Homo sapiens: one gene and its partners. The protein of the gene in region 7 interacts with the protein of the main gene of each other region in a pairwise test. Each region holds a gene or a part of one and is shown on either strand. Other genes may lie near its edges.

Region 1 (4,186 bases), on a different chromosome or scaffold from region 7:
CTACGAGTTCAAGGCCAGTCTGGGCAACACAGCCAAAACCCCGTCTCTTAAAAAAAATTTATCAGTACTTGATGAACAAGAGAGTGTATATGGTGATGGAGAAGAAGCTCAGAACATCTTCAGAATTGCTAGTTTACAAAAATAGGTGGATTAAATTCTGTTAAGTGAGCTGGAGGAGACAGTGAGTTTAGGTTTGCTCATGCTAAGCTGGAGGGTTACAGGAGGTCAAAATGGATTTTCTGGATGGTATTCTGAAATGCAGGTCTGAAGTTTATGATGCTTACTTGTTGACATTACGTTTCAGGGTCTCTAGCTGCTGACGTTCAGGAGCTGTGATCATCTCCTCTATTTCTTGTAACTGTGCTTCCTCTGCACCAGTAGCCTGCATAGATGCAATGATGGCTTCTACCCTCTGAGATTTTTCTAGTAGACGCCTGTCAAACAAACACAACTCTGAGACATCTTCCCTAACCTGGGAGATTCTCTTACCACGTGTGTCTGAGGCACTACCCACCACCCTTTACCATTTTCCTGATCAAAGTAGATAATGTCACCTTCTAAGGACATTTTCTACAAACTTATTTGGAAATATAACTTCACTCCTGAAATTCTTATTGCCTCTCATTTGCACTTAAAAGTTTGGTGCTTTTGTACGTTTCTCACAAATTTAATCTGAAAAATTATTTCACTGGGAGCATGTTAGAAAAGTGTAGACTAATGCATGATTTACACTAATCTAAGCCAATGATTCAATGCAAGTAGACTGGTTGCTATCTCTACTGGTTCCTACTTCTCAAAAAAAAAATTTTTTTTTTTGAGATGGAGTCTCACTTTGTCGCCCAGGCTGGAGTGCAGTGGCGTGATCTTGGTTCACTGCAACCTCCACTCACTGGGTTTAAGTGATTCTCCTGCCTTAGCCTCCCGAGTAGCTGGGACTATAGGTGCCCGCCACCATGCCCAGCTAATTTTTGTATTTTTAGTGAAGACAGGGTTTCACCATGTTGGCCAGGTTGGTCTCAAACTCCTGACCTCAAGTGATCCACCTGCCTCAGCCTCCCGAAGTGCTGGGATTACAGGCATGAGCCACCCTGCCAGGCCCAGCGTCTATTGATTCCTATTTCTAGAGGAAATTTCCCCTGAGGCCCTTGATCTTGAAAGATGTAAATAACTCAACTGAAAATGTTACTTACTTATTCTCTTTGGTTTCAAATTGCCTCCTTTCTATCAAGTTGGCTATGCTCTGAGGAAAGAGAAGACAGACAAGGAATGCACATAGTTCTATTTCAGCAGCTCAGGGCGAAGTGGGCACATGAGGGGTACTTGACCGTATGGAGGAAATGGGGAGAAGGTCCAGATTGAGTTACCTTGTAGCACCTGTGCAACAACATTCGGGCAGCTGACAGGATGTTCACAGTATATAAATAGAAGGTCCTGGATGGGGCATGGTCTGGTGTTTTGGGAATTTCCTATTTGTCCAATAGAAAGAAAAATAGCAGAAATTATACTGTTTTAGAACTGGCAAAGCACACACTCATTCTACCTGGAGTTACTTAGCCCTCCTTTTTACTTACACTTTCCTGTTTCCTAGTCATTCAGTACCTGTGTTTATTTTATTTATTTATTTTGAGACTGGGTCTTGCTCTGTTACCTAGGATGGAGTGCGGTGGCATGATATCAGCTCACTGCAACTTCCACCTCCGGCTCAAGCAATCCTCCCACCTCAGTCCCCCAAGTAGCCGGAACTACAGGCATGCACCACCATGCTCCGCTAATTTTTTAATCTTTTGGGGGTGGTGGAGACATGGTCTCACTATATTTTCCAGGCTGGTCTTGAATTCCTGGGCTCAAGTGATCATCCCGCCTTGGTTTCCCAAAGTGCTGAGAATACAGGTGTGCCCGGCCCAGTCTTTGTGGTTTATGTCATAATCAGTCAAATGGAGAGCTGGGCTTCCCTGTTTTTTCCATTTGACTGTCAGCATCCTGAGCTGGGGAAGAAAGGGAGGGCAACTAACATTTACTGAACAACTCTATGTGCCAGGTAAATTCTATTTGATCTTTACAAAAAGTCGTATTATTATTATTTTTGAGACAGAGTCTTGCTCTGTTGCCCAGGCTGGAGTGCAGTGGCACAATGTTGGCTCACTGCAACCTCTGCCTCCCAGGTTCAAGCAATTCTCCTTCCTCAGCCTCCTGAGTAGCTGGGATTACAGACACACGGCACCACGCCCAGCTAATTTTTGTATTTTTAGTAGAGACAGGGTTTCACCAGGTTGGCCAGGCTATTCTCGAATTCCTGACCTCAAGTGATCCGTCCGCCTAGGCCTCCCAAAGTGCTGGGATTACAGGCATGAGCCACCGCACCTGGCAACCATATTATTTTTATTATCACCATCCATCACTGTTTTATAGATGGGAAACGTGGTAACTTGCTTAATGTAACTGGGTAAGGCAGAGCTGTAATCTGACTCCAAAAATCCATTCTATCTATTTACTCATATGCTCTACTAAATAGCCCTGCAAAGACTCAGTTAGATGTGTTGATAAATTTAAACTATAACAGAATTAAGGCTTAAGGAAGGACAGAAATGAGAAGAGAAAAAAAGGCAGGGTGGGTTTGGGGTGATGTCCTGGCTCTGCCTCTTTTTTGTTTTTTGTTTTTTTTGTTTTTTGAGACAGAGTCTCACTCTGTTGCTCAGGCTAGAGTGCAGTGGCTTGATCTCGGCTCACTGCAACCTCCCCCTCCTGGGTTCAAGAGAGTCTCCTTCCTGCCTCAGCCTCCCGAGCAGCTGGGACTATAGGCGTGTGCCACCAGGCCCAGCTAATTGTTTTGTATTTTATTAGAGACGGAGTTTCACCATGTTGGCCAGGCTGGTCTCGAACTCCTGACCTCAAGTGATTTGCCCACCTTGGCCTCCCAAAGTGCTGGGACTACAGGCGCGAACCACCGTGCCCGGCCACCTCTTTCTCACTAGGGCAGTTAAGGCCCCAAATTATCCTCCAAGTGCTCGCTATGTCTCTGTGAATCATGTTTTTCTGTCTCAGAGCTGGATATAGAGTTTGCTTGGGGGTTCAGTATGTTTGCCTAAGAAGCTTCTCTCACCCTAGGCCAGCTTTGCTGGTTGGCAATTATTACGCCCTTGGTTGGTTACCTGGAGTGACATGAAATTTTCTGAGAGCATCTTATATAGCATATCCTTTGCCTCCTTTGCAGGAATCATTGCAAAGTCTTCCACTTGCTTCTGCTCTATGTGTTTCTTCTGCAAAACTAGACGGAATATTCTAGCACAGCGAGACCCAAATCTGGAAAGGAATGAAGAAAGCAAATGGCATGCTAACATAGATCAGCTTTAGTTCCCAGTCATAGATGGGGTGGTTGTTCTATTCCATGTGTGAAGCCAGTACCAGACAGGAACAGTGATCAGAAAATTATTCTACAGCTCCATAGGTTGGTGATGGTAAGGCATCACCAACTGCTGTTAATCATAAGGCAGTCACCAACTGCTGACTCATTTGAGTGCCACAGTTCCTACATTTGTAAGCAAAGGCTTTAGGGAGGCTGGTTAATTTGCATCGGTAGGAATTAAACAGTAGGTTATTTTAAGGTAAAGAGCAGTATTACATGAGATCCATAGGAGTCCAGTGAAAAAATGGGGAAAAGTATGCCAAGGTGTGGTTATATTGGTGGCTTACATAATGATCAAATTACTTCACTGGGGATAGGAAGTATGTGATCCCAAACCCAACCAGTGTCCCCCTTACCTCTCCTGTACGACGGACTCCAGAGTGGCTGTGGCTAGGGATGCTAATGCCTTATGGAGGTCTTTATGTAGAGAATTAAGGTCACTCAGTAATGTTTTGGCCTAGTTATTGTGATCTGAGTTTTATTCCTAAGTTTCTAATTTATAATTAAATTTTAAATGCTATTTTGTTTTTCATGTTATAATTTATGGTTTCAGTCATGGTACATAAATATTCCAAAACTTTAATACAAGTGTTTAAGTAAGGGTTTTGCTTAACTAAAATTTGGTTGATTAAAAGTCCTTTTTCCTTTTCTTTTTTGAGACAGGGTCACCCAGGTTGGAGTACAGTGGCATGATCTCAGCTTACTGCAACGTCTGTCTCCTGGGCTCTAGCGATCCTCCCACCTCAGCCTCCTGAGGAGCTGGACTACAAGCATGCATCGTTA
Region 2 (4,794 bases), on a different chromosome or scaffold from region 7:
AAAAACCTTTCAACAAATTCGGCAGCCTGGCAGGCAGCCCTTAAAACCCCATCGTTATTGCTCATTTTTTTTCCCAGCATACACCCTGTATATACCCAGCAGGAAAAAAACCCACTTGCCCAGGCTGGTGCCATTCAGGAAAAAATAGTTCGATCTCACTGATAAAGTGTCTTGCCCAAGTTTAAAAAACCTTCTGTACTTTCATATGTGCACAACCATTTCCATGCCGGTTACTGCCCCTACTCCAGCTTTTAAAAACTTCTAGACATTCTTCCACCATGGTTGCCCATCTCAGAGATATTACTAAGGCATGTTCCCTTTGCACTCAAACTTCCCCTCAGGAAGCTATCAAACCATCTCCTTTCCCACACACCAGACCTGAGGACACTTACTAGGGCAGGACTAGCAAATCAACATCACTCACATGCTCCCCAGAAAGTGATTCCTATACATTCTAACAATAGTAGATACATTCTCTGGATGAATAAAAGCTTTTCCTACCACCACCAAAAAGGCACACACCATCGCTTCTATTCTCTCCACCCATATTATCCACCGGTTTAAACTCCCCTCTTGCATCCAGTCAGACAATGGGCCAATTTGTTTCAGTTTAACCAACAGCTGGTAAAGGCTCTAAACATTAAATGGGCTTTCCATATTCCTTACCACTCCGAATCTTCAGGAAAAATTTTATAAAAAACAACAACTAACCAAACTCTCCTTAAAGGTTAAAATGGCCTGGACTTCACTTCTCCCATTGTTCCTCATGCGATTATGAGTCATTTCCTAAAAGCGCTCAGCCTAAGCCCATTTAAATTCATGTACAAATGCTCCATTTATCCTCCAGAATCTCCCTGTATTTTCCCCCCATTCTATATGGAATACTTGGCCGGCGTTACACCTCACCCAACATCTAATAAGACAGTACGCAAATGCTTACTTGACCCAGCCTAAAAGTCCATCCTCAAAACACTCCTCCCTGTCCCTACAACCAGCGGGCTGGGTCTGAATCACAGACTCCTCCTCCCCCGCTCTCCAACCTAAGTGGAGGAATTCTCACCAGGTGATGCTAACTACTCCCACAGCGCCAAAGCTAACATCCTTTGCACACTGAATGCACATTTCAAACTAAAAAGAGCACCAGATCCACATCTAGAAATTTGTTCACCCCCAAATTATTCTCCTTCCCTGACAAGACCAACCTCACTGTACTTAACAAGAATTCCAGAAGTTGCCAATCCAGAACACCTTAGTCCATAACACTCTCTGTCTCCAGTTTCCAATCTTTTGTCTCCTACTTTATTTCAGATCTTTCCTGGTTTCCCTTCCCCATGACCCTGAATAGTCCAGGCCAATTTGTCACACTAATCAAGGAGATATGACTTCAGGGCACCTTCCAAAATTTCACTCCTACTCAAATCTCCTCTTTCTCCTTTTGTCCTCTCTATCTGTGGGATATTCTAAGTCCCCACCCCGAACGTCTAACAGATGAGCCCCCTTCATCAGCCTCACTGCCTCTTAAATCAGTCACACTCCCCTCTTCCTTCCAACTGTTAAATTTGTTTGTCCACACAAATCCAGTAGTTCACAGCCCTTCCTGTTAACCTGGCCACATGAACCCTGTCCAAAATAAACCTGCATTTCACCTAATTGACCAATTCATTCGCAAAACCTGCTTATAATCTTGCTCGGCTAATCACCTTTCCCCCCCCACCAATCCATCAAATCCACCCACACCGTCACACACAGGGCTGTCACCCTCCTTCACCTCATAGCCTCTTAACTAAACATGTTACCAGTCGGATTCCAGAAAATACCTCTTATCAACCCCTCCCCTTTCTGCCGGAGCCGCTCTCCATGTATCCAAGTCAAGGGCGCTCCCTGGAAAATATCCACAAACAATTCCCTCAACTGCAACCTGTATCCTTCTGCGCTGTCAGGACCGCAATGGCTATTAGTTACAAAAACCCATTTCCTGCTCTCTCTCCAAAACCAAACAGCCTTCACCTCCTCCACTACCAACATTTCCTATCAGGCCTTCAGAGGGGCTACCCTTGCTGGCAGGTATTCAACTTGGAAAAACATAAAAGTTAAAACAAAGGGTTTGTGCAGAATTCAACCCCCACCTTCTCATGACTTGCCACCATAACCTACAACTTTTGTCTGTCCACCCCTAGTGTCTTCTTCCTTTGCGGCACAAACTCTTATCTCTGCCTACTGGCCAATTGGTCAGGAACATGCACCCTTGTGTTTCAATCTAAACATTAACACTTTGCCTAACAAGCAGACCATCCAGGTTCCTTTAGTAGCTTCTGTCTCATCTTCCTCCACACACACTAAGCAGGCTGTACATCTCATTCTAGTGTTAGCAGAACTAAACATCTCTGATGCACTCAGCACTGGGATAGCAGGTGGTCCCTTTCTTAGGGCCGTTAATCTTCCTCCTCCTGATAGTACATTTGGCCGATGTATACTCACCTTCATATCCTGCTTTATCTCCCGAAGGCTAAACTCCCCTCTCCAGGCAGCCACCCAGCAACACATTGATACCATCCTTCTCCTCTGCCAAGTCCGGTACCAGTGCCTCCAGGAAAACAACTCTGAAGTCCGTCACCCCCTGCTTCAAAACCCAAACCCTGATTACAGCTCCCCTATTCGGCAGCAAGCAGCCAGATAATCAACAATGCCCCTCTTCCTTTTATACTAAAGTAGAAGGCAAGAATGTGAGTCCAAACCACCATTTAGTAAGCACCCTGCTATTTTGCAGACCTTGATCAAAGTGAAACATTCCACGGGGGTTCGGGCCATGAGAAAAATCTTGCCTAATCGTCGTAACACAAGGCGGACACAGGTCCAACTAAAGAAACTTTCCTATGGTATCTTGCTGGGCAAAGTTCCAAGAAACACCACAATGACATCCCACTGGAAAAAGGACCAAACAGCCTGATCATAAAAACATCTTATCAATATCCTGCCGGGCAGCAAGCCATACTGCCCCGGCCCCTCCCACCCATACCTATAAGCACCCCAGCCTGTAAGCGGCGGTGGGTTCTGGCATTAAGCGGGTCCCCCACTTCCACAGGTGTCTGCAGTATTCCTGTGTTGCTGTTTGAGCCGTCCCTTCTCTGTGTGTCTTTCTTTCACCCTCACCTTCCCTTCAAAACCTAACAATCTTACCTCATCATTTTTTTTGTTATTGGATTCACAGGGGCTCTTCCTCTTCTCCCCATTGGTGCTTGAAGTCGGCTGTTCCATGATTCTGCTTGGTTGTAGAATGTCTATAGTAGGCTCTTGTAGACTGCAGACTTCCACAGCTATATTGAAGCTTGCCAGGAGGATGTCCCAGAGCTCTGGCCCTCCCTATGTATACCTTCCTGGTGGCAAGGCAAAGCCACACTCTTGAGCTTTGTTTGATCATACAGGCAGTGTCCCAGCCAATGGCAGTCCTAGGGTGGCTTAGACATCACAAAGCACCACTGCTGACCACTCCCTGGGCTTGTGGGGGACGGATGACAGGGGTGTAGAGGAAACCAAATGCTGTTGTTGTTTCAGCATCCCCTGAAGATGCATCCCAAACTAATCTGCTGCTGCTCATTTCTCCATGTTTAATGTTCATGGTTCACATGGAAGTGAGAGGATGATTCCTTCAAGCCCTTCCCCACAGTCATTCCTATGAAGTCATTCATTCTTTTGTCTTCCAGCCCTCACCATGACTTAGTATTTTAGATGTCTCACCTCAAATCCCTCCAAGCTAGTGTGGCTACATTTAATTATTGGTGGAGATGTGAATTATCCCATTTCCCTCCTACAGTTCCTTCACATGCACCTTGAAGACCATTTACTTTTAGGCTACTGCCAGGCAAATTTCAACCCATGTTCTTTTACCCAATGTCCATGTAGTTCTTTTAAGTTTCCTATCTCCAATCTGAAATAATGGCCTTCAGTCTGTCAAAACTTTGGTGAATAAACTTTCTTTACCATGTATCCTAGTCTTGTTTCAAATCAGGGGTCTATGTTCATAGTAAATGTAGTATCCCAACATGAATTCTGCCAGTATGTGGGTGGGGGAAGGAGTGGATATTCAAGTGCTGGAAGTTGTTCTGAGTATTTACCTGCAGGATGCTACAATCTAAGACCCACATGTGCACCAGTATGGGCACAGTTATACTTTGTACTGGAGATTGTGTCCAGTGTAAAAGAAAAAAAAATGCATTCAGATTGGAAAGGGAGAAGTAAAAGTATCTTTTGTCAAAGACTACCTGAGAGTATATGTAGAAAAGTCAATCTAAAAAAATGGTTCTACATTAATTGAGGTTAGCAAAATTGCAAAGTAAGAGATCAACACACAAATCAATTGTATGTTTATATATTAGCAGTTACATATGAGAAGTTTCTATATTAGAAGAGACAATGTTTTAGCCAATGGTAGTCCTAGGGTGGACTGGAAGTTAATTTCAACAACTGAAAGTTGAAACTAAGAACAGTGCAATTTAAAATATCACTAAAAATATTAAAGGCTTAGGGATAAATCTGACCAAAGATGTAAATGACTTGTACACTTAAAACTACAAAAATTTACAATGATAAATTAATGACATAAGAAAAAAATTGAGATCTATACTTTGATTTTCGGTTGGAAGATTCAATATTGTAAAATGGCAGTTATTTCCAATTTCATCTGTGGATTCAACTAAATTCTAATCAAAATTCTAAAAAGCCTTTTTAATAGAAATTGACAAGATAATTATAATATTCCTATGGAAATATAAAGTGCCTAGAATAGTCAAAAGAAAA
Region 3 (4,186 bases), on a different chromosome or scaffold from region 7:
CAGAAGGAAGAAAAAGAAAGATGGAAAGAAGGTCAAGAGGAAAGGAAAGGAAAGGGAAAAGGAAAGGGAAAAAGGAAAGAAAGGGAAAGGAAAGGGGGAAGGGAGGATTTTTTTTTAAACTAAAGCTATTTCAAATTTAGAAAAAAGGGGAAGGATGAGAAAAGAGAGGAATGAGAGTAGGTAAAGAAAAGAAAGAAGGCAGGCAGACGGGAAGAAAATAAAGGAGAATGGGAACTAGGAATGAAAGAAGCAAAGAAATAAGGGAGGTGAAAGAAGAAAAGGAGAAAAAATAAAGAGAAAGAGAAATGTGGGAAGAAAGAGGAAAGAAGATGATGGAGAAAGTAGAAAGAAACTCATCAGGAACCTATGGAGGAATCTGAAAGCTGCTTCATAGTCTTGCTGCTAAATTATCAGTGCAGTCTGTTGATTTTTGATGTTGTTAACTAAACTCTAAGTTTCTTCGACATCACTCTTGGGTTTATTTTCCCTTTTTCAACATGAAGGATGGGAAGGCCCAGGGAGCTTTTAGTCAGACCTTGGCCTCCAACATTTCCAAAAAAAGTTTGTGCATTGGGACTTTGCCTTCTAGTTTGATGTTGTAGAAATGCTGCACGGCCTTGGTAGAGGTCTGCCTCAGGAGTGGCAGTGTCATCAGCATCTTGCCAGCTCGACGAGGGTCTTCCATGTGCTGGCCAGCTTCATAATCCTGCAGCGCTTCATGTAAGACATCCTGAAGCTTCTGAACGGCTTCAACATCTTCTATGTGCATGGAGTCTGTGCAATGAAGCAAAAGATATGAGTAATTATAATAATAATAGCAAACCTATGTAGACTAGAGTTATAAAATTAGTTATTAATTTAATTATTTTTGAACTTCTCTGAGCTTGAACCTATGATTTGTTCAGAGTCTTGCATTTCTACAATCTCTATTTCTTTCCAAATTTCCCTACATAATTTCTAATACTAGCTTAGAAAATGGGAATTATTAGAAAAGATCTATGATTTAAAATGTGTATTTTTCTTTCTCAGGCTGAGCAAGAGAAGGCTTTCTTTTAACAGATTACAGTCTTGACTATTTTATTCATTGTCTCATCCAGGTATATATTCATTCACTCAATAAACAACCACGGAAGGCCATCTATTGAAAGTATTATCTTAGTGCTGTGTGGGGGAAGGTTGTTTAAAATTCTGATCTTGCCTGGAAAAGCCAATATTTCCCAAACAGGGGAAAAAATTGTTGACTAAGATTCTAAGAACTCCATGTGACTACATTGAATCTAGCACTATACAGAAATCACAATAAATTATTTATCCTTTCAGGATGTTTAATGTTCTAGTATCAGTTGATTAAAGCATCCTTACAGAGTCTACTTCCCTGATGAAAAACAAATGGTGTCTTCAGATCACTGAGTTCTGAAATATTTTTCGCATTTGTAAAGGTGAACTTTGCCCTTAAATGAATAATTTGAAAATCTAATTCAATCAAGCAAAGAAAGGGTTAACAAGGTTGCCAAATTATTCTTGTGAGAAATGTGAGATGTGGGGAAAAAATAAAAGTTACAGCTCCAGCTCTAAAGCAGACACTTAATTATATACAAGTTTGAATCATTTAGCACGTTTTATTGATTCTGATGACAGTTTATCTGTTAATTACACATAATGGAGTCTTTGGGGGATTCTTCATGTTTAATAATTCTAGTTCTCTGAGAATGCTGAGCTCTAAGATATATGTAGTTAGCCTAATCTTTCATACAATTCAAACATAGATCACATGAACAAAAAGAGAGGGAATGTAATTTAAAATCAAGTGGCTAAATATATAATAAAAATGAAATATGGCAAACTAATTAAAAGATAACCAGTAGCATGTCTTAAAAATTTATTTGTATTTTGTTTAGTGTTTTTTTCACTTACATTGTCATTTTGAATCATTCCACCATATCACTGGTGAACTGACCACTATTTACATTAGGTAGTTTAATGACACCTCTTTAAAAAATTTTTGAATAATCTGGAATAAAGTTGCTTATAAGTATTTACTGCTCAAGACTCAATTTCTGCCTGGCAGAGCAAAAAGAAGGAATTTTTCCAAGTGGGAAATAGCATTGATAGTGGTTCCCTGGAGCGGGACTCAAGTCACTCCCCAACATACGCCTGGCCTTTCCCTGTGGATTGTTTCTACCCAGCTTCTCTCCAGTCTGGTTCCTCTCAGCATGGCAATCTCATCCACCTCCTATGGTGCTGTCTCTTAGAAACAAACACACATAATTTCTAAAGTTGTCTAGGGGTTGGTAATCTTAGGGACAGAAAAACATTCATAGAGATGATGGCAACATGATCTGATATTCTTTCTCTCTATTTTTGCACTTAAATGCTACCTGAAGGAAAAATGGGAGGTATGGGGAAACACTATGGTGAGTCTCTAGATACACAAAAGACTGCAATATGGACCTTGTGCATAAGGGAACAGAGATGAGTTGGATTTTCCCAACTTATCCTGGGTCTAATAATTAGCTCTCTACATGAAAACAGAGTAATAGATGGAAGGAGAAAATGGGAATTACACTCTGCAGTGACAAAACAAACGAAATAACTATTTTCCAACTAGACCAAAAACACACCAGAATAAAAATAATACATTTACCATTTATTAAGCACCTATTTCAGGTGAACATGGCCTCATTTTACCTCCCCAAGCCCTAGAAGACACGTGGCACTGGTAATATGTGTCAGACACAGGTTTAAATTCAGGATTCTTCAAATCAATAATGCTGCTAGAATGTAGAACACTAAATTTGCATTCCCTTAAAAATTGGGATGAATTGTCCTCTAAACACATCCTATTCAAACTCCTATCTTCATCAGCTGTCTTCTTTACAACATTCTTAATGAAGACATTGCCAGTTGTATGAAAAGTATGTAGAGTATTCTCCTTGATAAGAGGCAAAACTAATTATTATGAATTTCCTCTTTAAATTTTCCTAAATCTGTCTCCAAATTCTATCATTTGGTCCTGTTTCTAATTACTAGAACAATACAGGATAAATTTCCTTTTTCTACATGGCATATCTTTAAGTGCTTGAAGTCAGCTGCACAGTTACCTCGGCCCTACCCATAGTCTTGCCTTTCCCACTACTCTTGCCCAGCAGGAGATATATTATAGGATGTCATGGGAAATGAGACAAGAACAAATAGCAGAGAGATATGCTCACAAACAGCAATTAAGATTTCAAACTATTCTTTCAAGGCTGTGATTTAGCATGAGAGATTTAAAAATGATTTAATCAAATTACTATGATAATTTAACTTCCCATTTATAGAAAAGATTCTAACTCATTTTAGCTTTACCCATTCTCGGATCTGCTAATACTTTAAATGCAAACTCACTAAATTTGAACTATTTAATTAGACAATGATTCAGCTGGCAGACTGCTGAAGAAAATATTAATCTCCATTAGGGATCCTAGTTCAAGTTCTGGATCTGTGGTTTTAATCTCTGTTTTGTTCTTTTGGTTAAATTTACACGTTGACACCAGGCTCAATAGAACTGGCATTAATGTATGTAATTTATTTTGTTTTCATTGTTCATGCTGGTTTCTTTTTAACTATGCTTTAAAGGAAATATTCCTAGTATTTGTGCTAATAGGAACCAGCTAAACTTAATGGATATCATAAGTTTATGAACTAACTAGACAGGACTAGGCTACATATTAAAAACAATGGGCGAGCTCTTAAAAATCTTGGATACTGGGCCCAAGTCTAGATCTATGAAGTAAGAGACCAGAACTAGGACATCAGCATTGCTGAAAATCTAGGTAGTTCTACTGCCAAGCCAGGATTAAGAACTACTACTGAATTAGACAATAAGACAAGCAAATACTATTCTAAAAGAATAAATATTTCAAAAGATAACCAGAGTGTATATGAAACACATATTATTGCCCACATATTAAGTCTAACACCTAATAATAAAATAGAACTTTATCAAAACTTCCAATATTTTACTCTGTGAAAGAGATCCTAAAAAAATGTGTCTAGTTCAGATCATTTACTTTGGGAAGATAGCTAAATATCATCATCCTTGCAGCTGCAAATTGAATAAGACAGAGCCACTGAAAAAGAAGATTTTATTTTTATATCTTCCCTTGAATAAAATACTGCCCTTCTCTATGTTAGAAAATATTAA
Region 4 (4,186 bases), on a different chromosome or scaffold from region 7:
AAAAATGAAAATGAATATATCTAGAAGAAAGATAATGCTAGGCTGAATCTCTCAAATGTATCAGAATGTTTACATGTCTCGATAGTTCTTGAGGGCTCAACAAAACATAAAACCACAATTCGGCCTCCACAACTCTCTGTAAAGTAGGAAGTTGTCAATTTACAAAGGCTATCACAGAAAAGGAAAGAACAAAAAGGTGGGAAAGGCAATGAATTTAAAAACAAATCCAAAAAACAGACAACATACCTGGCAACATGAGAAAAAGCATCCACAAGGACAGATTCAAATTCTCTAGTGAATTCAGGTCCTTTCCTTTTACTGTTTTGGATGACATCATTCGCTAAATACAGAAAAGTAAGCTTTCTATTTGATTTGGCTGAAAAAAAGAAAAGAAAAGAATTTAACTTACACCAAAGAAATTCTCAATTCACAATTCTTTTGCCCTGGGCTGCTCCTAAAAAAACATTAAGACAAGTATTATCTACCTGGGGGGTCAAGTAGATATGTTTAAAAAGACCACCTAAGGAATAGGTTTGGGAATACCATTTCGGAAAAAAAAAAAAGAAAAAGAAAAAGAATGGGCCATCTTCATTGCTGTGTTGTTTAAACCAGGGTAATTAATTGATAGTAAAAATTAAGATAATCCAAAGAGAATTCCTAAAGGATAAGCAGTCAGTGTTAATGTTGAAACTAGGGCTTTTATTTATTCTACTGCAAAAATGAGCAACTTCTAACTCACTTTTAATTATCAAATATTTCAGAATGAAAGACTGAGTTGGCCGGACGCAGTGGCTCATGCCTGTAATCTCAGCACTCTGGGAGGACGAGGTGGGTGGATCATTTGAGGTCAGGAGTTTGAGACCAGCCTGGCCAACATGGTGAAACCCTACCTCTACTAAAGATACAAAAATTAGCCGGGTGTGATGGTGGGCACCTGTAGTCCCAGCTACTCAGGAGGCTGAGGCAGGAGAATCGCTTGAACCCAGGAGGTGGAGGTTGCAGTGAGCCGAGATTGCACTACTGTACTCCAGCTTGGGCAATAGAGCAAGACTCTGTCTCAAAAAAAAAAAAAAAAGACTGAGTTAGGTTTCAATTTTAAAATGGTTTCGCCGAGCGTGGTGGCTCATGCCTGTCATCCCAGCACTTTTGGAGGCCGAGATGGACGGATCACCTGAGGTCGGGAGTTTGAGACCAGCCTGACCAACGTGGAGAAACCCCGTCTCTACTAAAAATACAAAATTTGCCTGGCGTGGTGGCACATGCCTGTAATCCCAGTTACTCAGGAGGCTGAGGTGGGAGAATCGCTTGAATCCGGGAGGTAGAGGTTGTGGTGAGCCTAGATCATGCTGTTGCACTCCAGCCTGGGCAACAAGAGCAAAACTCCGTCTCAAAAAAAAAAAAAAGGTTTCTTGTAATTTTGCTCCTAAACTGAGAATTTCTCTGATACTCCAATAACCATAATCAATAATATAGAAGAATCTCTAGGTGCACCAATAGATATTAGCTCAAATACAAGTATACATTAACACTACACTCTTATTGAAAATTTACACACGTGTGAAATCTAGATATGCAAAATTAGGGCTTTCACAAAAACCATAATTCTCTCTTATTTATATGAAATGTGGTTATTCCCTATTACTCTATATGGTATCATATATTAAACCATAAAAACCTCGTGCAATATGTCTGAGTTACAGTTGCTTTGGGGAACATTACTGAATTCCCTGGCTTCTATGCACATAATTTCTCAACTATAAAGTTACATCCCTACAATTTTTGGTTCCAATTTTCTTTTAAAAGAAATAAATAAGAACATAATTAGATGTTTCAAAACACAAAGTTTTCTCCAATGCTAAAGTACCTGAAAAACACAAGCTCTTTATCAACCTTAACACACCTGAGTAACTCTATTTCTCTCTGAAACCAGTTGTTTCTTTTGAAATGTACAAAGCATTGATATGTCTGACATAGCAGGCATAAGATCTGACATTTTAAAATGTAGCTACAGGAGGCTGGGCACAGTGGCTCACGCCTGTAATCCCAGCACTCCGGGAGGCCAAGGCAGGTGGATCACCTGAGGTCACGAGATCAAGGCCATCCTGGCTAACATGGTGAAACCTTGTCTCTACTAAAAATACAAAAAATTAGCCAGGCGTGGTGGCGGGCGCCTGTAGTCCCAGCTACTCAGGAGGCTGAGGCAGGACAATGGGGTGAGCCCAGGAGGCGGAGCTTGCAGTGAGCCGAGATCACACCACTGCACTCCAGTCTGGGTGACAGAGCAAGACTCTGTCTCAAAAAAAAAAAAAAAAAAAAAAAACAAAACAAAAAAAATCAGCCGGGCGTGGTGCCAGGCGCCTGTAAACCCAGCTACTTGGGAGGCTGAGGCAGGCGAATCACTTGAACCTGGGAGGCGGAGGTTGCAGTGAGCCGAGATCGCGCCAACTGCACTCCCACCTGGGTGACAGAGTAAGAGACTCCGTCTCAAAAAAAAAAAAAAAAATGTAGCTACAGGAGAGTAACCCAAGTTAAAAACATGATTTTAATAGCACATTACAGTTTAAACTGATGAAACTGATGTCTTAAATGCTCATAAAATTAAATATGGATACCCTGAATTGTCTTAACCTTCTGGTAATAACCTAGTTTAGATGGCCAACTGATAAGAATACTAGGAACCTGGAGCTTTCTTCAACTTTCTAATTATTATTCAAAAGCAGAACAAAAGTGTCAGTAGTTACAATATCTACTGTTGCTACAAAGGTATGATTATGGCAAAACGTGCTTTTTTGTTAAAGCAAACCTTGCTCTGCAAAGTTGATGTAAGTGAAACTACTACACCTATAATCCCATGCAAGTTAGCAGATTCGAAAGCAAAACAGAACTTCAACAAAGCAAATTTCATTAAGTGAAGCTTTAAAATTCCATACACTTTATGTTGAAAAAAAAAAAACCTAGAATCCATATTGTAAAATGTCAGTGTGGACATTCAAGACCTGATATATACTTCTCAGTAGACAAACAAGGTATCTAAGGGGCTTGAGACCCAAGGTTTTCACTGTTTACAATGCCAATTAATTTTCATCACCCCAGAACTTAACAATGGGGATTTATTTAGGATAAACTGTATCCCTCCATATTCAACATCCTCAACAGTCAACATAAGCACCATGTGTGTCAAGGTGATATGACAAAACCCTAGAGCTCTTGAGCACACACAGTCACAATACACACAACATGCACACCCCTCCATCCCAATCCTGGGGGACAACTCACTTGTTCAGATGTCCTTCCTATACGACAGAAATAGGTCCTTTCACTCACTACCCATGTCCATTCCAAACTGGTCAAACTAGTTGTTGAGTAAAATTTAAACAACTGGTTAATCAAAACTTTTCACTTGTTTGGCTGGTTTTGACATCTACAGAAAGTCTTAAAGTAATTCTGCAATAAAAGCCCATTACCTACATTCAGGCCAAGATACAAAACACCATTAAAAACATTCATTTAGGAGCACTTTACACCAAAACTAGTCCATAAAGAAGGGGAGACGTTCTACTTAGAACAGAGCTCAAATGGGATAAATTAAAAATTATTCCTAGAAAATGGAAAGACAACACATCAGGAATAGAAGTATTTAAGCAAGAAAAAAAGTTAATTTTTATAAATCTCATATATTTTGAAGGCAACTCAGAGACAGTCTGTGAGCATCTCAGCTACGGAAAATGACTTCACCCTAGGTAGAACCTACAGGGCTAATCAATCTGAACATTAGGGCACAGAATCCTTTTCTTTCAGTGTGGGGGCATTTTCAGTTCATGAAATAAGCCTGGATATTCGGAAGCTAGGTATTGATGCTTGGAAGAGCATCTTTTTTTAACTCTGCACTGTCCAGTAAGTTAGCCACTAGCCACGTGTGGCTATTGGAACACCTGAATTGCAGCTGGTAAAAACTGGAAACTAAATTTTCAATTCTATCTACTTAAAACTTTAGTTCCTTAGTCACACATTTTAAGTGCTCCATAGCCACATATACCAAGCGGCTACCTGTTGGATGGCACAGATAGAAAACATTGCTATTATCACAGAAAATTGTATTAGATAGCGCTGTTTATATCCTTTATGCTGCTATCATAGAAAGTTGTATTGGATAGCGCTGTTTAGATCCTTTACTCAACCACGAAAA
Region 5 (3,444 bases), on a different chromosome or scaffold from region 7:
ACCTGCCCCAGTTTGAGCAAGTTAAGAGCAGTGAAACAATTCCTACATCCAGTAACAATTCAAGTCTCCTGATCATGACCTTGTGAAACCTTCCCTGAGCTGTCATTACCAAGGAATTATAAAGCAATTATCAATCCACTATAAATAAGTTCCTACCTGCCATTAAATCCACCAAAATCTCATGATGGGCTGAGAGCCCAGCACGGGGTCCTAGCGTAGACCTATTACCTACACTAGGGTAGGTGGTGTGAGCATGCTGCTGGGCAGTGGCTCTCTGGGCTCACTATGATGATGAAACAGTTGACTCTATGAAGTTTAACTCTAATGAAAGCCCCTATGACAGACCACCTATTTCCTTTCTAAGTCCAGACTGCTTCCCCTCCACTAGCTGGGGAGGGAGAGGCCATATGAGTGGAGGGACCTGTGGAGGAAAAATTATTATTACTACCTTGATGTCCGCTGAACCAAAGTGGATGGAAATTTCTCAGGACATATTCATCCAAACTACAAAAACAGGTTACTCCATACTGATTACAGGATGATTTATCACACATTCATTAAATATAGAACATTGACTAGCAACCAGTTTCCTCCAACAACAGATCCATTTGGAAATGGCACACTGTAGAAGGCAATCTTGTGACTTCCTTCTAGTTGTATATAAAAAATACAAATCGGTCAGGGAGTCAGGTACAAAACAGTGGTACAAAAGCATGAATAGATACGCCTTATCAAAGAATGTGCTCATTTCATATTGCAGAACTTCTATCTAGATTCTGATTTTTAGAAACTTACTGCTGGTTCATTTGTTCGGAGAGGTTTCTTCACACCTCTCTTCCACTCCTACCTCCCCTTGCTAAAATCCACTGACTGAAGAATACTTAGTATGGATCCACATGGAACCAAAATCCCCAACTGAATGGAGTCACATGCATCAGCACAGTGGCTACCGGTTTCATCTGCTCACCCAGCCTCATGTATTTAGGGACTGAATTCAAGCTAGAAGCACCCAACACTTTTGTCTTTTGGAATCTAATCCAAGTGCCAATGTACATCTAAAAGTCCCATGTATAGGAATCTCTTGATTCCTACAAATGAGATTCAAGGGAGAGAACAGTGAGGAAAGCCCAGAGAGGGGGCAGGAGACTGGCCACAAGCCAGGTGTGTACTTCCCTTTCTTAGTCTGTAAATGACAGGTTGAGCTGGCAGGACTCCATGGTCCTCACCAACTGACACTCAAGGACTCCATTCTGTATTCTGAGGTCCATTTCTATCCAGGCTTGTCAGGCTGAGTCAGACAAAACTTCCTTACCACTTTGTGTCAACAATTTAAAGTGGTTTTAACATACTTCTATGATGTAGTTTGAGGTTTTCCCTCTCTCTCCTACCCATCAAAGACTTCATTCCACTGGTACCAACCACTTGGCCAAACTGATGGCTGCTGAGGTTTAAAACTGAATCTCTGGCCTGGTGAAGATATGGCCTTTGAGTAACTTAGACCAGGGCACATTTATCTGTTTTTCATTAACAATTTTAACTAAATAGAAATATAATTCTGTTAGCTCTTCTACAGGTCTACTTAAACTTTGAAAGATGAGATTGTTCAAAAATGACACGAGAAAATCACCCATCACCACTAAGTTAAAGACTTGAATATGTGAGAGTTCCAGAGCCTCAAACTCCTACTACAGTCACTGATCCATAACATTTTCCTCTTGCAATGGACTCCACGCCAAAGTAGCTCAGTCTTGCGGCATGTTTGTGCACCAAAAAGTAGGTTTCGAAAGATCCAGCACTAGTCATCACTGTCACTGCCAGACTCACTCAACTGCAAGTCATTTCCTATTTAAAAAAAAAAATAAAGTAAAATCATAGAATCAAACAAAAGTACAGAATTTAAAAATGACTTCCTCATAATTTTTTGTTAATTGCCTTGGCTATCACACTACAGTAAAACCTTGTTAATTCAACTTAGGGAAGAAAATCAAATTGGCTCACTGAAACAAAATGGTGCTTTTGGTTATCTACAAAGCACAACAATACTGCATATTAGGGTAGAGCAAAGGAGAAGTAAGCTGGATAACTTTTAAATGGTTTAATAAATAGCAAGAAAATATTTAAAATATGTCTGGGCGCAGTGGCTCACGCCTGTAATCCCAACACTTTGGGAGGCCAAGGCAGGGAGATCATTTGAGGCCAGCAGTTGGAGACCAGCCTGGCCAACGTGGCGAAACCCCATCTCTACTAAAAATATAAAAATCAGCCACGTGTAGTGGGACATGCTTGTAATCCCAGGTACTTGGGAGGCTGAAGCAGGAGAATCGCTTGAACCCAAGAGGTGGAGGTTGCAGTAAGCCAAGATTGCACCACTGCACTCCAGCCTGGGCGATAGAGTGAGACTGTCTCAAGGAAAAAAAGAAAAAAGAAAAAAAAAAAAAAAGAAAATATTTAAAATAACTGATCACCATTCGGAAGAACTGATCACATTAAGTTGCTTTATAAAGGCAACTTAAGAAAATATCCGGTAGGCTTCCCATTAAGAAAGGTGAATACTGTTAACACCAGTAATATGCTAATGCAGTATCTGCTCTGGCACACCTCTGTCCAGGATAGTCACGTTATCTTAAATTTCAAATCTGAACTAACGTGCTTTACAAAACCCCAGATTCCTGTTTACTAGGCAGAATTTAGAAGAATATAATTACTTAACATTTCAATCTAATACAATAGGAATACATATAACAGAACCCCAGTTGATACCACTTGTAGCAAAAGTGATTTTCTTTATTTCCAAATTGCTAATCTCTAGGCCAGTTCTCCTCAAAGTCTATTCTGAGGACTCGGGGTTCCATGAAACCCTTTCAGGGGGGTCTGATCCTGAGGTCACCCCTTTTCTAACTACCTAGAATGCCAGATTTTCTTCATATACTTCAGTCTCTATGTTAAAGATGGGGCATATAATGGCAATGTCTTGAGATATTTTTGGTTGTCATGGGGCTGGGGAGGTGGGAAGAGACTGGTACTGGCATCTAGTGGGTAGACGTCAGGGATGCTCTTAAACATCCTACAATGTGCAGGACAACCTCCCACAAAGAAGACTTATCTTGCCCAAACTGCCCATAGTGCTGAGGTTGAGATTATCTCTGCCTGGTCCACAATAGTTGGATTAACTAGGTTAACTTCCCCACTGTTACCTCTAGACCTTCCAACTTCCTTAAAGGAAGGTGTACCAAGAGAGAACATTCATCAGGGTTCCAAAAAGAGAAAAGCATAGAAAATTAGCCCTCTGTTCACCTTCAAAACAAATAAATTTTTGTTCTTGTTTTCCTGTTTTACTTTAGTATCAACTGCATTAAAACACACCGAGGCCAGGCATGGTGGTTCATGCTTTTAATCACAGCACTTCGGCAGTTGGGGAAATTACTTGTACCCAGGAGGAGTTCA
Region 6 (4,186 bases), on a different chromosome or scaffold from region 7:
ATGCTCCATGAATAGTGCAAAAAATAAAATAATCACCCTTAAAGGCTACAACTTTTTCATTTTGCCTTCTCAAATTAGATGTTTCTGCATGGGAGGGATTTAATTCTGCTTTGTCTTTGGACATTTTCACCTTTAACCATAAGCAGATTTTTGTCTAGATGGAAAAATCTCACACACAAAAGAACCGAAATGCTTTTCACATAATAGCTCAAGAAATGTTTTCGGAATAAATAAGCAACGGAAAATGATTTGAAAATAACCAGAATTTTAAAAATTATATGCATGTGTTTATATATGTTATGTGTATGTAGTTTTATACATATTTGTGTATAGATATATAGGACTTATTTTTAGATTTGTGATTTAGTAGTCCCTTGGTCAAATTTCTCTTTAGAATCTCGAAGCTTAACATTTATTATACATATAGTGATATTTTTTTCCTTTCCTGGGAGAAAGGAGAAAATAACAATTTGTGAATTTCCGCTATTTTTCTCAAGGATGTCACACCATGATCTGAATGTATGTTTCTAAGAAAGATAAATTTTACTTTATTGCGACAACAGGATGGATAGTGCTTGCAAAGTTCTTATGAGAGAGGTCTCATCAAAAAGTTTGCTACTTGCTGTTAAAAGTTGTTTCTAAAGCAGGAGAGGAGCACTGCCAATAAACCCCCCTTTCTGGGTCTCTGAGTCCTTTGAAATTCTGCAATTTCTACTCTTGCTTCTTTCAGATGACCTAAAAATTAGACCTTGCCTAAAGAAGGAAGCTCCTCAGATATTGGTAAGAAAGTAACACTAGTGAGCATCACCTGGAAAGAGTTACTGGGACAATTCTCGCTCCGGTCTGACACTATTCATGGCAGGGGTGGAGATCAGGAGAAAGACAGGATTCACGCTGCAGAAAACTGGGCTCTACTTCTGACCTTGTGAACCTGGGAAAGCTCTGCAGTCCTCGGCTTTGCTCATTTATAGAACAAGGGTATTAGAAATTTAAGATGCCAGCTATGTACTTCATTCATTCTTCAAATGGTTACTGAGTGAAGAGCACTGTTCTTTGTCCTTGAAGAATCAACAAACAAATAAAAATCTGTCCTTGTGGAGTGCACCTCTTCTAACTTTCTACTTACCTTTGGGGTACGCATTTTGTGGACACAACATGGCGTATAGCATTCTAGAAGCAACGAAATGCAGACCTTCTCAACTCTTAGGTTGTTCCTTGAGCTCATTTCACATTCGGAGAAAGAAGTACCTGCTGAGGCAGATACTGAGGCAAGTAGTTTCAGGAATACTAAGAGAAGTGTGACAAGCCCTTAACCTAGAGGAGCTCAGCATTTAGTAGGGAGGCTGAAAGACAGGAGAGTGAAGAATAAGCAAATAATGATACTCATTCCAGGAGAATTCTGTAGGGAGATAAATCATATCCTATTAGGAAACTGAGTGATGGACTCTGCTAGGAGGTAAGGTTTAAGTTAGATCTTAAAAATGGTTACATTTACAGAGGGATGGGGAGTCTAAGAGCAGAAAATAGCATCATTTATTATACATATAGTGATATATAAAATATCACTATATGTATAATATAGTGATTTTACATATCACTATATGTTTACATATCACTGTATGTTTACACAACTACGGAAAAGCACAGAGCATGTTGGGAGAAATGGGAAAATGATTTGCTTGGCTGCCACAGAGGGTCAAAAGAGTGCATGGGGATATGAGCTGGCCAAGGCCTACAGCCCGACGATGCCAGCCTAGGGAATTGTGCGTACTTTGGCCACTCCTGAGAGCTTTGAACACAGGACTGACAGGCTCACATTCAAGATGACAAAGTCAGTGTGGCCCAGAGGAAGCAAAGAACAGTTTTTATCAAGTCCTGGCAGCAACAATAACAACAACTAAGTGATTCAACTCAACAATAATTGAGTTGCCGGGTCTACTTGCTGGGTGCTGAGGAAGCAAAGACAAGCTCAAGCTAGCCACTCTCTTTAACTGTTAGAGAACACCAGCCAGGAGAAAAACACGGAAGTTCAGGACCAACAAAATGTCCAGGCAGGAAGGAAGAACCCCAGCCACCTCCTTGTAGGGGAGGGAAAAATAGTGCATGGAAAAGGGAAGATATATGCTCAGAGGATCCTGAGACCTGAAAATATCATCTAAACTCTAATCCAGCAGCTTTTAGGGGGGTTTTATCTGCCCAGGCGTGGTGGCTCACACCTGTAATCCCAGCACTTTGGGATTACAGATCACTCAGATTTGCAGATCACTCGAGGCCAGGAGTTCCAGACCAGCCTGGCCAACATGGTGAAAACCCATCTCTGCACAAAATACAAAAATCAGCCGGGTGTGGTGGTGTGCACCTGTAGTCCCAGCTACTCAGGAGGCTGAGGCAGAAAAATCACTTGAGCCTGGGAGGCGGAGGTTGTAGTGAGCCAAGATCATGCCACTGCACTCAAGCCTCGGTTACAGAGTGAAACCCTGTCTCAAAAAATAAAACAAATAAATAAATAAATAGAGGGGATTTATCCAATATAATGTGGACATAGAGAAAGTTCTGAGGTTGGATTTCAGTTAAGGAAAGCACCTGTTACATCATTCGGTCAGTCAGCAAACATTCAGTGTGGTGTCTAATATGTTCCAGACACTTTTCCAGGCACTGGGTAAACAAATAGGTTCCTGCTCTAATGGAGATTACAAGTTAGAAGGGGAGACAGAGAATAGCACATAAGCAGAAACTATGTAACAAATTGCGTGGTGCTAAGTGGTATGAAGAAAAAGCAAGCAAACAAGCAGATGGAAGAGAGCACATTGTGTGTGGTCAGAATAAGCCTTTCTGAGGGTGTGATATCTGATAAAGGGGGTCAGGATGCAGGTGGCTGGGGGACCGTCCCTCCAGGTCAAGGGAACAGTATTTGTACCTGGCACGTTCTAGGAAGAGCAAGGACAACTGGGGACTCGGAGAGTGGCAAGGCAAGCCCTGTAGGCAAAGTAAGGAGTTTGGGTTTCATCCTGAACAGGGCTATGGTCAAAGAAGTAACACAATGTCCACTCCAGGAGGACAAGGACTTGTGACTGTTTTGCACTGTGATCCTGCTACATCCCAGCACCTAAACCAATGCCTGGCACACAGCAGATGTCTAGGCAGTATTTGTTGAATGAATGAATGAATGAGAAGACTTCCACTTTTAAAGGCTCGTTTGGGCTGCTGTATAGGGAACAGACTGCAGATGGGCAAGGACTACAGAAAACCAGTTAGGAAAGCTTACTAGCGCTTAGACGGGGATGGCTGTGCTGGATGGAGAGGGAGAGAGAAGGGACAGAGATTTATTGAAAGCTGGATCTGGGTGAGAAAAAAGTCAGAGGGACTCACAGGTATTTGACCTGAACAACTGAAAGGACAGAGTTGTCCCTGAGAGAGATGGAGGACACCAGAAGAGAAGCACGTTTAGGGAGCAAAAATCGGGGGTTGTATTTTGCACATGTTAATTTTAAGCTAACGTGCCATTCAAAGGGAGATGCTGGGCGGTTGCATTTTCAAGTCTGGAGTTCTGGGAATGAGTCAGGGCTGACGAAATAAACTTGGAATCATGAGCATGAAGACAGTGTTGAGAGAAGGAATTTAAGTAAGAAGGGAAGAAGTCTGAGAGCCAAGGCCTGGGGAATCCCCGTACCCGCATTTAAAGGTCAAAATTCAGTTGAGATCAATCGGGATAAAAACTCAGGGGCCATCCAAAGAGCCTGAGAGAGAAGAGCCAGAGAGGCTGCGGGAACACCAGGAGAATCTGGTGTCCTGGAAGAAGCCAGGTGCTTAAGAAAAGAGTGGTCCCCCACAGCCCCATGGGAAATGCTGCTCAGATCAGCAAAGCTGTGCCCTTGTACTTCACCAGGTAGAGATCATTGGTGACCCTAATGACAACAGGGAGGGGAGTGACAGGAACGAGTGACTGATACCTGATCGAGGTGCTCTCAAGACAGGCAAAAGGTGAGAGGTGGCAGAAACACAAAAGTAGCTTCAAATAAGATGGTGATCTTCTGGTCTCAGGCTGCATGGTGGGTGTGTGTCATATTTTGCTTCATATATTTCATATATGTTCAATGTGCTGTTTGTCAAAATCAAATATGTCACAATAAAATATGTCTTTAGAGGCTGAGATGGAGGGAGTGAAGAAGGCCAGTGGGACAACCTT
Region 7 (4,696 bases):
CCATTTCCTGCTTAAGACGTGACCATTAGCTAGCAGCAAGCAGGGAAAGTGGCTGCAGGAGAATAATATGTGCGGGAGACTTTATGTAGACCGAGATTTCTGCACCTCTTCTCACCAGATAGCTGCATTGAAGGGTCTGGTGATACTCTTAGTTTATCTCTCCACTGGTCTGAGTCATGAACTTGGAATCATGGGAGAAAGTCAGGAGGCTGAGGTGGATTGAATATTCCCCACTAACCTCCCCTCTCATTCTTCTGCCCCTCTGCAGGCCTAGCAGTGGCCCAGAAGAGTTTTGCAGCAATAGGCAAAGACTATCCTATCTAGATTTTATAAACTAAGAGGAGTAGTAGCAGAGAGAATAGAAAAAGCTACCATACCAACTCAAACTCAAAAAGAACACCCCTATCTGTTCTGTCAGTCCTCAGCTTTCAGCCCAGATCCCGGACCTAAAATGCTCTCCACCTGCTTCAGGGTTGGGCATGGGGAAAAGGATCAGTCTTCAGAAAGAAGGCTGCCGTAGCTAGGCCAAGCTGGTGACATGCCACTTGGCAAGTTCTTGGGTCCTCTCCTGGGCCCAGAGCCCACATGGCCAGCTCCAAGGGGCATCATATGGATTTAATGTAAAGGGAAAGATCTAAAGCACAATCAGCAGTACTGGCTTCTGGGTCCTAGATCTCCTTCCCATCACACACCTCACACATCACTGGCCCAGAAGACAGGGTCTCCTAGGTGCTCAGGGCTGGGGCCAGCTCAGAATGGGGAAAGCCTTCCTTTAAGGGTCAGGGCAGCCTGATCTGCACAGGCAGATCTCCAGGAGGGCGTACACCTAATTCCTGGGAATCACCCATGGTGCTGGGGCAGGGGGTGTTAGATCTAGCCTCACTCCTGTAGAATGGGCCTGGACGCTGAGTACAGCTGGGTGGGCCCACAAGGGGTGGGGCCTAGAAATCTAGCCAAAATGGGGTACCCCAAACAAGGGCAAAAGTCAGTTCTTTGTAGAGCAGAAGCTCGAAGGAAATGCTCAAAACCGGGGGACAATAAAAATTCCAAAAGGACAGGATTTGGGGCCTTCTGGGCCTAGGCCAAGGTGGATAAAACATGGGCCCTGGAGGATTTGGGGATGGCAGGAATGGTGGGGGGAAAGGATGTATTATCTAGGGGAAGGAATCCTTAGGCCTGTCTTACCCATCCTTCCCATCTCCTCCACCTCCCAAGGGTAGTTCTGTCCAGAGCAGGTTAGGAGGTGAAGAGCAGGCTAGGTAGGGGTGGTGGGGAGGAAGGCTGGTGCAGAACTGTGTGCGGCCTGGTCGCCGGGTACCTGGGTCTCGGAGAGGTTAAGCTGCCGGGCGAGCTCGGTCCTCTCGCGGCCCACCACGTACTGGCAGCGCTGGAACTCCATCTCCAGCCGATAGAGCTGCTCCGCGGTGAAGGACGTGCGCGTCCTCTTAGGCCGGTCCAAGTCCAGGCCCTTGGGCAGGATGATCTCTCGGATGGACCCCTTGGCATCTGGGGAAGGGGAGATGTCAGCCGCCAGAACCCTCCCGTCCCCCTCCACCTCCTTGGCCCGAGCTGGATTTGGGGACACAGTCCCCAGAAGCGTGCAGTTTTGGGGATGGGGGGCGGGGTGCGGAGCGCGACCACAACCAGGTAGCAAAGACACTGTGTGGAGGGCAAGGGGCCTAACTCCATACCGCTGACCGAAGGAGGGACCACACTTTGTCTTTTTGTAGAGTCCTCCAGACAGGGGAGAGAAAAAAATCCAATCAATTCCACATAGGCGGACGTTTCTTCCGGCCTGGGGGGGCCTCGGCTGAGCCTTCCGGGTCCCCTGTAGCCTGAGGGTACCCTTGTCGCCCCGCCCGGGTCCTGCGGGCCCCAGCTCTGGGCTTGCCGACCAGACCGTGATCCAGACGTCCCCACCCCCACCCTCGAGTCTCCTTCCCTCCGGAGTCCGCGCGGCGGAAGGAGGAGGGACTGAGTCGGGGCCGGCCGGGCCCGGAGATCTGCTGCTGGCTGGGGCGGCGCCGGGCCGGGGCCCGGCCTCGCAGCCTCCGCCGCCGGGGCTAAGTGCACGCCGCGCCATCCGAGAGCGGCAGAGCAGAGCACCAAAGCGGCAACCGCGGCTCCGTAACCAAGCCCAGCTGCCTCTCCCGGCGGCAGCGGTCGGGCACCGATCGCGGCCGTGGGGTCCTCGGCCCAGTGCACTAACTGGCAGGGCCGTAGCCCGCGATCGGCAGCTGTTCTCCGGGGCTCGCGTTCCCCCTTGGGTGCGCTCAGCCCTCCAGAGCGCGGGAGTCCCCTGGCCGGCTCCCGGCAGGTCGTCCGGCCCTTGGAGCGCGCACACCTCCTCCCGGAGTTTTCTGCTCCTTTCCCGGGTCGGAGGCCGCAGCCCGATGCCCGGCCGCACCCGCGCAGCCCCTCATCTCCCCCCGCAGCCCGGTCAGCGGGGCCCCTCCGGGCGTGGAGGGCCGAGGCCCCTGGAGAGCGCACCGGAGAGTCCCAGGCGCTTGTCCCCAGCCGGACTCGGGGCGGGGAGGGCCAACAACTTTCTCCCAAGTCCCAGCCGGCACTCCTTCCCACCGGCCTGTGTCGGCGGCAGCGCGCAGCTCCGGCCCCGGAGTCGACCCCAAAGAACGCGCCTGGCAGCCCTGCCCATCCCTACCTCGGACCAGGATCCGGCGGCAGTAATCCGGGTCCGCTGCGGAATTGGATTTACTTTTGTTACAATCCTCAGCAGCGCCCGACGCTGAGAAGGCGCCCTGCGGCTCCTTGAGGAAGGCGGCTGGGAGGTTCCCCTCCGCGCCCTTGCTCTCCCGACTCTCCTTGTGCGCGTTCTTCGAGACCCGGGCAGCCTCGGCGTCCGAGTGGCATCGAACGTCCATTTTGTCTGGTTTCCCGAACATAGGCAAGAACAACAACAAAAACAGAAAGGAAAAAAAAAGCAAAAAAAAAAAAAAGGGGGGGGGGCGGAGAAGGAAAAAAAAAAGAGGAAAAAGGGGACAAAACCCCCGACAACGCGGCCCGTACGCCCGGCCCGGCGACAGGCAAGGGGCAAGAATGAATGTCCCCGCGGGGAGGCTTCGGCGGCCGCGCGCGGGTCAGCGGCGACGGGAGAGTGGCGCGCTCGCCGAGAGGCGGCCAGTCTGGTCCAGGATCCTGGTGGAGCTGCGGCGAGGCCGCCTCGTCAGCACCCGCGTCCTCTGAGCACGTCCAGTGTCCCCAGCCTGGCGATCAGGTAGCGAACAGCGCAACTCCGAAATGCTGCGGCTCCCGCCTGTTTCTGAGACGGCGAGTTGTAGTTGTCCGACACCCGGGGGGACGCACACTCGCTGTTGCAATTGATTACGGGTAATTTCGCAGCCCCCACGTTTCGGTTACCTCATGAATACACTAAATTGTTTGGATAATATATCAGATCGTAATGGATGGTTTCTGTCCTTGTCCCCAATCAAGTAGGGGTTTAGCCAGTGAATAAACGGAAATGATTGGTCTTGCTTTCAGGAAACACACAATCAAAGACCCACACTTCCAGAAAAACTTTTGACAAGATTCATCCTGAATTGTTAGTACCATTAGCAGGCATTATTAACTTTCCTTTTGCCTTTGACCCTCCTGCTCACATACTGGCTAGAGGGGTTTTCTCCACACTCGCCAGATAGAGCTGAATGAGGGTTGGGCGGCGGGGGGGTGTGGGGGGAGAAAAAAAAAACCCTGCGCACCCTGCGGCAGAAGAAAGCAGTTGTCTGGGAGTGGGGGATGGGGGACAGAGCGGGGGGAGAAAGTTTTCCCAAAAAGTATCTCCCTTGCACTCTAAAAAAGCCAAGATTTTCCCCTAAACAACTCCTTCTTAACACACCTCGACGCAGACAGCCATCTTAAACTGCCACCTCTCTTCATTTAGTTCCAGTTGGATTTTTTCATGCCTGCACCTCCAGCAGCCCTGAGGCAGCCCATTCAAAGGGCAGCTTTGTACTCAGAGTCCAGCAGGAGAGAGAGGGGGAGAGGGAGAGACGGCCGAGAAATCTCAACTGTGAGATCTGCTTCAAAAAAAAAAAAAAAAAGTTTTCCCCTAGCTATTTCATTGTCTCTGCTACAATATCTTTGAGAAAAGCAACAGCCAGTAATCCAATAAGAGCATTGATTAGGCTACAATGATTCAATTCAAGCGCATGGCCTTGTGCAAGGAGCATGCTCCAGCCCTTCTCGTCACCTTGCCGGGGCAGAAGCCCTCTCCACGCCGCTCTCCCCATTCATTCCTTTATGGGAAATGCGGAGCAAAAGGAGTGAAAGATGGCAATTATCTAATTGGACTATTAACAAACAGTCCTCTGAGTGCGGCGGTCTGGCGTGGCTCCTGGGCGGGGGAAGGGCCGTGTTCCCTGCCCTCATTCACAAAGAGTGCAGGGGCCGGGGAGGAAAGGGGTTTTTTAAAGGGGGTGGGTGGGGGGAGAGGAGAGGTGGGAGGTTTGGCTGAGAATTTTTCCACACAATTCCAAGAATGGGGCGGAGGCGGGGGGAGGGGAGGGGGTTGGGGAGGGGGTCGCGGCGAGCGGGTGGGAGGAAGGCCGGGAGGGGGAGGGGTGCGAGTGTGTGTGGCGGGCCCCTAGGGGCTCCAGCTCGCAGCGACGCGCGCACCGTCCGCACCTCCCGCCCCGCCGCCACCTCCCCTGCCTCCGCCGCCACCCCGCGGGACCCC

What was found.
Region 1: the proteins of VAX1 (region 7) and POLR3C interact in binary tests that used the Homo sapiens proteins (3 or more experiments, as listed by UniProt).
Region 2: the proteins of VAX1 (region 7) and SPANXN2 interact in binary tests that used the Homo sapiens proteins (3 or more experiments, as listed by UniProt).
Region 3: the proteins of VAX1 (region 7) and ESRRG interact in binary tests that used the Homo sapiens proteins (3 or more experiments, as listed by UniProt).
Region 4: the proteins of VAX1 (region 7) and RPRD1B interact in binary tests that used the Homo sapiens proteins (3 or more experiments, as listed by UniProt).
Region 5: the proteins of VAX1 (region 7) and EAF1 interact in binary tests that used the Homo sapiens proteins (3 or more experiments, as listed by UniProt).
Region 6: the proteins of VAX1 (region 7) and HECW1 interact in binary tests that used the Homo sapiens proteins (3 or more experiments, as listed by UniProt).

What each region holds. Positions count from the first base shown.
Region 1 is NC_000001.11:145,837,170-145,841,355, reverse strand, and holds part of POLR3C (DNA-directed RNA polymerase III subunit RPC3), read right to left. Parts: exon of another isoform or gene 3,865-4,186; intron 3,821-3,864; coding exon 3,760-3,820; intron 3,301-3,759; coding exon 3,150-3,300; intron 1,467-3,149; coding exon 1,365-1,466; intron 1,241-1,364; coding exon 1,191-1,240; intron 435-1,190; coding exon 285-434; intron 1-284. UniProt on the Homo sapiens protein: DNA-dependent RNA polymerase catalyzes the transcription of DNA into RNA using the four ribonucleoside triphosphates as substrates.
Region 2 is NC_000023.11:143,717,414-143,722,207, forward strand, and holds the start of SPANXN2 (sperm protein associated with the nucleus on the X chromosome N2), read right to left. Parts: upstream 3,340-4,794; 5' UTR 3,256-3,339; coding exon 3,178-3,255; intron 1-3,177.
Region 3 is NC_000001.11:216,506,410-216,510,595, forward strand, and holds part of ESRRG (estrogen-related receptor gamma), read right to left. Parts: intron 775-4,186; coding exon 530-774; 3' UTR 1-529. UniProt on the Homo sapiens protein: Orphan receptor that acts as a transcription activator in the absence of bound ligand. Binds specifically to an estrogen response element and activates reporter genes controlled by estrogen response elements.
Region 4 is NC_000020.11:38,036,625-38,040,810, reverse strand, and holds part of RPRD1B (regulation of nuclear pre-mRNA domain-containing protein 1B), read right to left. Parts: intron 3,353-4,186; exon of another isoform or gene 2,704-3,352; intron 377-2,703; coding exon 247-376; intron 1-246. UniProt on the Homo sapiens protein: Interacts with phosphorylated C-terminal heptapeptide repeat domain (CTD) of the largest RNA polymerase II subunit POLR2A, and participates in dephosphorylation of the CTD by RPAP2. Transcriptional regulator which enhances expression of CCND1.
Region 5 is NC_000003.12:15,437,507-15,440,950, reverse strand, and holds part of EAF1 (ELL-associated factor 1), read right to left. Parts: intron 1,843-3,444; coding exon 1,796-1,842; 3' UTR 1-1,795. UniProt on the Homo sapiens protein: Acts as a transcriptional transactivator of ELL and ELL2 elongation activities.
Region 6 is NC_000007.14:43,118,960-43,123,145, reverse strand, and holds part of HECW1 (E3 ubiquitin-protein ligase HECW1), read right to left. Parts: exon of another isoform or gene 3,951-4,186; intron 1,344-3,950; exon of another isoform or gene 1,127-1,343; intron 1-1,126. UniProt on the Homo sapiens protein: E3 ubiquitin-protein ligase that mediates ubiquitination and subsequent degradation of DVL1. Also targets the mutant SOD1 protein involved in familial amyotrophic lateral sclerosis (FALS).
Region 7 is NC_000010.11:117,135,154-117,139,849, forward strand, and holds the start of VAX1 (ventral anterior homeobox 1), read right to left. Parts: upstream 3,118-4,696; 5' UTR 2,904-3,117; coding exon 2,663-2,903; intron 1,507-2,662; coding exon 1,319-1,506; intron 1-1,318. UniProt on the Homo sapiens protein: Transcription factor that may function in dorsoventral specification of the forebrain. Required for axon guidance and major tract formation in the developing forebrain.